Homo sapiens: one gene and its partner. The protein of the gene in region 1 purifies or fractionates together with the protein of each later gene. This does not show direct contact. Each region holds a gene or a part of one and is shown on either strand. Other genes may lie near its edges.

Evidence for each region. The genes of interacting proteins can lie anywhere in the genome.
Region 2: the proteins of NOP14 (region 1) and MACROH2A2 purify together in Homo sapiens (co-immunoprecipitation; one large-scale study listed by IntAct). This does not show direct contact.

The regions. Positions count from the first base shown.
Region 1 is NC_000004.12:2,942,825-2,946,671, forward strand, and holds part of NOP14 (nucleolar protein 14), read right to left. Parts: intron 3,724-3,847; coding exon 3,588-3,723; intron 2,406-3,587; coding exon 2,304-2,405; intron 1,403-2,303; coding exon 1,249-1,402; intron 1-1,248. UniProt on the Homo sapiens protein: Involved in nucleolar processing of pre-18S ribosomal RNA. Has a role in the nuclear export of 40S pre-ribosomal subunit to the cytoplasm.
Region 2 is NC_000010.11:70,104,840-70,108,686, reverse strand, and holds part of MACROH2A2 (core histone macro-H2A.2), read right to left. Parts: intron 1-3,847. UniProt on the Homo sapiens protein: Variant histone H2A which replaces conventional H2A in a subset of nucleosomes where it represses transcription. Nucleosomes wrap and compact DNA into chromatin, limiting DNA accessibility to the cellular machineries which require DNA as a template.

The DNA.
Region 1 (3,847 bases):
TCAGCAAAGGCCTGTAGGACGCAGGAGTCAATTCACTCGCCACGGAGAAGGGCAATCCAGGCCGAGGGTGTGGCTACACGGGGAGGGGTGGAGAGTGGGTACAGTGGGGCAGAGGTGCCGGGCCAAGCGAGAGGGGAAGGCGTGGGTCAGGCCCCGCCCCACACTTCCCCAAAGCCGAGATGCCCACCCCTTCCTTGACTCCACCTGTGCCCAGCCTGTTCCGTCACAGCCCTTCACACGTGGGACTGCAGCTATCTACAGGTGGCTCTCCCGGAGGCAGGGAGCATGTGGGCGGCCGCGCCCCTCTGGCGCCCAGCACCGAGCCTGACAGACAGGAGCCTTGGGAGGCAGGTGGTGGCAGAATGGGAGCACTGAACCGGAAGAGTGGGCCAGACCCCTCTTGGAAGGGACTCTGCTGGTGGTGTGAATGATGCCACAGCACCTGCTCCTCAGGTCAGTCCCCTGGACATGCAGGCGCTTAGCACTGCACGGTGAGCTGGAAATAGAGGACAGGGGTCTGAGCCTTGAGGTCCAACCTCTGGTCAGGCTGGGAGAGGCGTCCACAGACATGGAAGAGCTCAGGAAGAGGCTGTGCAGCTCCTCACCCCCCAGAGGGAAGCAGCAAGTGCTGAGGAAGCATCCAGGAGCAGGGCTGGCATCAGGGGAAGGGGGAGGAGCACAGGGGCTGGGGTGAGGGCCCAGGAGGGCAGCCAGTGTGCAGACTGCTCCTCATCCCAACACTGCTCTTGCCGCCCTCGCTCCTGAATTCAGAGCGTTAAGAGAAGCGACACAGCAGCGCGGCCTGTGTGAGCTGCACGAGAACTTTCACACTGCCTTGTCGTCACGTGAGAAAAAGTAAAAAGTTAAGATTGATTTTAACAATAGACCTTATCTAACCCCAAATACCAAAATATTATGATTTTAACACATAATACAAAAAATTAAGATATTTTAAGTATTTCTGACACTAAGTCTTCGCCACTTGGGCATATGTCACAGGTAGGGTACGTCTCAGTTCAGACTCTGGCCCCTGGCAACCACGCTGGACAGCACAGGTCACCGGTAGCACTGCTTTTCCCCATGTGGCGCGTGCACACGCTCACACAGAGGGACAGACAGTGCGGCGGGTGGCAGGTTGTGTGTTTCCTCTACTTTCGCATATTCTAAACTTTCTACAATGAGTATGAACTACTTAAAAAAATTCTAAAGTATAACATATTTGTAGGAACCTCCCTCAAATCAACTCACCTTGGCTTGCTTTGTTTGGAGTTGCTATGTAAAGAATCCCAAGAAGAAAATTAATAAGCTCAGGTATAAACCTCTGGGACAAAGCCACATACTCCAGGAACAGGCAGCACACGAACAGGCCCTTCACCACGTCCTGGAGGGACAGGATGGGGCACTGGAAAGGAACATATGGGGGGTTACTGTCCTGGGACGATGTCATGCCATGCTAGGCCGACCACCGGGCTTCCCTGATGAACCACGCACCCCACTGAGCTTCACAAGTACAGAGGGAACCCCCGCACCTTATAGCAGTGTCGAGAGCATCAAATGAGATGAAAACAAGATAAAGAGCTTTAGTGATTTTTTTTTCCCGAGACGGAGTTTCACTCTTACCACCCAGGCTGGAGTGCAATGGCACAATCTCGGCTCACTGCAACCTCCACCTCCCGGGTTCAAGTGATTTTCCTGCCTCAGTCTCCCGAGTAGCTGGGATTACAGGCATGTGGCACCACACCCAGCTAATTTTTGTATTTTTAGTAGAGACGGGGTTTCGCCATGTTGGCCACACTGGTCTTGAACTCCCGACCTCAGGTGATCCGCCCGCCTCAGCCTCCGAAAGTGCTGGGATTACAGGCGTGAGCCACCGCGCCTGGCCAGAGCTATACTGATTATAAAGTTCCTTCCACCCATACAGAGCGTACGATTACTGCACTAAGCATGTACCAATCACATGCCTAATAAAGAAAAAGGAACAGCTTGAACTTTTTAAGCCAAAAAGGGAACAAAAGCCCTTATCATCACACTGGATAACTTCACCACTAACTTGAAAGGTTGTTTTCTGGGGTAGCACCATCTGTAACCTTGAGGTGCCAAACCAGGCCCTCCCACTCCCACCCACATCTGGGGCTGCTCGAGCCGGGGCTCTTTTAGATGGGCCCTCTTTGGCCTAACCGCAGTGCTCGGTCTCTGCAGCCCTTAAACAGCCACACTCATGTTCCACAAGGCCCCGAGGGGCTGTGGCTCCGGCCACCCGTGGTGCAGCAGGCCGACCCCTGCCGCATGTGGAGAGAACGCACCTTGGTGAGCAGCTGACTGAGGCACACGAGGGCAGGGGTCACCACTGGGTGCCAGAAGTCGGAAGTTGGAAATAGCAGCCCAGTGATTTTCAAATAAATGAGCTGGAAAGAAAGTGTTACCACAGGTTAAAGAAGGTAAATGAAGTCCATCCATATGCCCTCCCCGCAAACACTCCGGAGCCAAGAACAGGATCTGGCGAGGAGAGGGTGCATCTCCTTGGCCCAGAGCTCTGGCCTCAGTGTCACAGAACAGGCGTCCAACCACCGTGGGTCAACCAGCTAAACGTGCAGTGAGGACACTGAGGCCCATGAAGACTTCAAAGCAGTCAACAATGGTTATAGACACGGGCTCAGATCATGTTTTGGGGAGTTGATTAAAAATCACTAACCTAAGTCCTACATTTTTAAGCTTCTGCTAACTATTGTGAATCCATTTCAACACAAACACCAGGCAACAGAATAAAGAGCGTATCTCAGCAAGTATTTCCTTAAAGTTACTAAAGCTGAAAATACAGCATGAGGCTGTTATAAAATTGTTAAAAATCTCAGCGTACAAATGTCTCCCAACCTTTGAATAACATAGAAACCGAGACCAATTTAAACCAGCCCACAGGCTTGGGCCCTTAAGGACAATACCGTGGTTCTATTTGCCTTCCAATGTTTTTGTCACTGGACCAAATACAGCACCATTCACGTGGAATCAAACCAGAATCTCCCTGCACGACCCACACGTTAGTCCATGGCTAGTGGAGGAGTGCCCTCCCCTCCCAGGCTCGCTGCCGTGCACTCTCACTCCAGATCACCCTCACTGCCGTGCACTCTCACTCCAGATCACCCTCACTGCCGTGCACTCTCACTCCAGATCACCCTCACTGCCGTGCACTCTCACTCCAGATCACCCTCACTGCCGTGCACTCTCACTCCAGATCACCCTCACTGCCGTGCACTCTCACTCCAGATCACCCTCACTGCCGTGCACTCTCACTCCAGATCACCCTCGCTGCCGTGCACTCACTCCAGATCACCCTCACTGCCGTGCACTCTCCAGATCACCCTCACTGCCGTGCACTCTCCAGATCACCCTCACTGCCGTGCACTCTCACTCCAGATCACCCTCACTGCCGTGCACTCTCACTCCAGATCACCCTCGCTGCCGTGCAGCTCACTCCACATCACCCTGGAAGCACAGGGTACAGCCAAGAGCATCGTACCCGTCGTCCACCTTCTGTGATGCCAAACAGAACTTCTGTGGCAGGGGCAGTGCCTAGACTGAACTCTGCTTACCACATCCAACCCTGGCAATGCCGCCCGGCCTTTGGTCTCAATCATTTCTTCCATCTCATGCATCGCATCTCGGAGAACAAATTTGATAGCGTCACTTGCAGATTCAGGAAACATCTGGCAAAGATGATATAAGTGCCTGTTAAGCAGAAATGTAAAGTCAGGAGAGAATGACTTTAGATAAGAAACACAGAAAAGCCCTGCAAGCCACTTTCCTATGCAGTCACCTGTTGACTGAGCAAGTAAGAACTGGATGAATCCGC
Region 2 (3,847 bases), on another chromosome or scaffold:
TGGCATCCCAAAACATCCACGTCCTCCTCCCTGAAACCTGTGGGTGTTCCCGTACATGGCAAAAAGGACTTTGCAGATGTGATTAAGTGAAGGCTCTTGAGATGGGGAGATGATCCTGGACTGTCTGGGTGAGCCTGGGACCTGATAAGAGGGAGGCAAGAAGGTCAAAGGCAGGAGAAGGCCGTGGGATGAAGGAGACAGAGATTGGAACGATGCAGCCAGGAGCCAAGGAATGTTGCAGCTTAGAAGCTGGAAAAGGCAAGGAAGGGATCCTTCCCTGAGCCTCCAGAAGGAACCAGCCCTGCCAACACCTGGATCTTAGACTCTTAAAACTCATTGTGGACTTCTGGCCTCCAGAACTGTAAGAAGACAAATTTGTGTTGTCTGAAGCCACGAACTTTGTGGTAATTTGTTACAGTAGCCACAGGAAATGAATACAGTGGCTTTTATTTTTATTTTTTTATTTTTAGTTTTTTTTTGAGACAGAGTCTTTTTCTGTCGCCCAGGCTGGAGTGCAGTGGTGCGATCTCAGCTCGCTGCAACCTCCACCTCCTGGGTTCAAGTGATTCTAGTGCCTCAGCCTCTCGAGTAGCTGGGATTACAGGCATGTGCTAATTTTTAAAATTTTTTTATAGAGATGAGGTTTTGCTATGTTGCCCAGACTGGTCTTGAACTCCAGGGCTCAAGTGATCCTCTTGCCTCAGGCACCCAAAGTGCTGGGATTACAGGCGTGAGCCATCACACCTGGCCTACTGTGGCTTTTAAAAAATAGCTGTGCCTGGGCCCCACAGAGTCAGGGTACTGACCACCCAGAGGTCCTGACTCAGTAGGTCTGGTGCAGGGGCTTATGCTTATGTGATTTTAGGACCTTCTATGAGTTGAGAACCACTGAACTTGATTGTGTAGTTCCTTGACAGGGACTGCCATTTGATGATCTCCACATGCCCTGCAGAGAGTGGGGTTTCAAAAGCGGGCTGTGAAACTGAATTAGGCCAGCCTTGTCTCACAATTTCTGTCATACTCCTTTGTTTTACTGTTTACTCCCCTAAATGTGGTTCCCATTGGTGACAGAGTTGATAAAGCCCCGTGGCTGCTAAGCTCGAGGGAAGTCCCTGTGGGACTCCCCAGGGGAGCAGTTCCCTCGGATCTGCCTGAGGCAGCTGCAGCTTCAGCCATGAGCCATGCTTGCCCCCACGCTGCCCGTCTGCGCCCTGTGCCCCTCCAGGAACCCAGGAATCGGCGTAGCAAGGGTCCGTGGCCACTAGGGGCAGCACTTGTAACAGAAACGTGTGTCCGCCGTATTCCAGAGCTGTGTGTGGGGTTGAGGTGAAAGACTGACTGGAAATCTATGATGCCCACCTAGTTTATATAAGTATTTCCTGGCAATGTCCACAGTGTCAGGGAAGTGCTGACTGCACTTCCTCACATGGGTAGAAGCCAAATCCAAGGGACCCCTTCGTCCATCAGGGGAGGCTGTAGGCTCCCTGCCTTCCAGTGCCTAGACGGGGCTCAGTGTCATCACACGTGAACGCCTGAGTGCAGGACCCAGGCCACACAATACACCGAGGCCCTGGGTAGGGGCCCGCCATGCGTGCTGACTCTACGACCACGTATATTTGTGCACCAGAAGCAGAGTGTCCCTCTTTGGACTGAACAATGATGCCCCTAAAACTGGAGGCTGCTCTGCTGAGAACCAAGGACCCTGGAGATGGGCCTTGCCTGCATGGTGCCATCTTCCCGAGCACCTGGCTGCTATTGTATGCCGGACAGAGTTTGGCTTGTTACAGTCATGGCTGATTTATTTCATATATTTTAAAAGTATAATCATGTTACTAGCAGAATGGTATTCCTCTAATGTAAAGTCTTTTTTTTTTTTTTTTTTTTGAGACAGGATGCCCCTCTGTTGCCCAGGCTGGAGTGCAGTGGCTCGATCACAGCTCACTGCAACCTCTGCCTCTCGGGTTCAAGCGATTCGATTCTCCTGCCTCAGCTTCCCAAGTGGCTGGGATTACAGGCACCCGCCACCATGCCCGGCTAATTTTTTGTATTTTTAGTAGAGATGGGGTTTCACCATGTTGGCCAGGTTGGTCTTGAACTCCTGACCTCAAGTGATCCACCCACCTCGGCCTCCCAAAGTGCTAGGATTATACTGCACCCAGCCAAAAGTCATTTTTAAATAAAAGGAATATGTTCCTATTGGCAATGTCAAACATCCAATCAAGTAAAAAATGACTTTCAGGGTAGTGCACGATGACATTTCAGTCCAAAACAAAGTATGTTCATGGCAACTGGAAATGAATAACACAGCTTGTAGCCATAATGCTTTGTAATGTTCTCCAGAGTTGTCAAGGATGAGGGTCAAGTTATTGCAAGGGCTGTGACCCTGGTATTTGGTATAAGCACCTATCCACATAATGACTAGGGGCATTCTCTTACCTAATGTGATGTTGCCTGGTGAAGACCTGCATTCTGAGGGTGGCAGTGCTGCTGCTGGGAGCTTCTAGAACCTTCCCCCAGGTGAGCCATCACAGTTCTTGGGAGTCACCACAGCAAAAGGGGACTCTAGGTTGGCCCCTTGTCCTGCTGAGAGGCTGCTACTGCTGATGCCTGGTTTCCGTGACACTGTGGGTTTTCTTTTAACAGCACCTCAGTTTCCCACAATGGCCTCTCTTCTTCCTGCGTGTCTGGGCCCAGTGCTCTTCTCTCTGCTGCAGCCCCACCTCCTAAGCAGCCATCTGCAAGCCATTTTCCTCCTTAGCTTTCAACAGGGACCTGCACCTCATGACCTTTCTGGGGCCCCAGGGCTAACACGTGCCCAGTAAAATGGCCATTCACTCCTGAAACCCGATTCCCCTTTTTCCCTCTTTGTCACTGCAGACACCATCAGTTTCCTCTGCCTTGTCTCATTTCAGGCCCATGTGCTTCATTTTCACCCCCACTCCACCCCCACCCTCATCCAATACAGCTTTCTTGATGGTCTTCGGGCCCCAGCCCTCTGTCTGCCAAACCATCCTCCACACGGTTGCTGGAGCCAAGGTCCTTAAACTCCACATTTAAACTCAGAATCTGCAACTGCTCCTGATTGCCCCCTGGCCTTACTGCAGTCCTCCCAGGCTCCCTTCATGGTCGGCCCCTCTCCCCTTGGAGTCTATCCATTTCTTGCTCTTTCTGGATGCCCAGTCGTCCTCCAGCCAGTGGGCTCAGTCCCCTGCACACATGGGTCTGGCTGCACCTCTGTCTCCACACTTGGCTATCCTCCTTTGTCCCTGACTCCCTCGCCCATTCTCTCCGGGCCTCTGCCATGCAATTCAGCAGCCAGCTGTGCTAAGTGATGTACTGTGTTACCCTGGGGTCCCCGCCTGGTTGTAAAATTCAGGAGTGTTCAGGGCCTACAATCACATCCACATCCTGATGCCTGCGCCCGACAGCACACACCGTAGATGCTTAACGTGAACTGGTTCTGCCCCAGCTGACATCTTCACTGAAGCACTTTTGTATTCCTTGCTGCTGCCTGGCTCCTGCCACAGTCACTGGCAGGCAGGTGCTCCAATATTCAACAAATGAATGAAAGTCCTGACTTTTCATCAGTTTGCTCAGCCCTGGAAACCCTGGACTTACCTTAGCTCCAGCTTCTGCCTCCCTGAACATGCAGCATCGCTGCCTCTCACTGACTCTGCACCTGAAATATTTTCTTGATCCACCCTCCCCGACCCCCTGCCACAGGGTGGGCCTGCACTGCAGTTGGTCTGTTTTAACCATGTTAAGATGCACTTTTTTTTTGTTTAAATATTTTAATATTGTTGAAATCAGGAAGCATCTTAGAACTGCTGTCAGCCTGGAGCTGAGT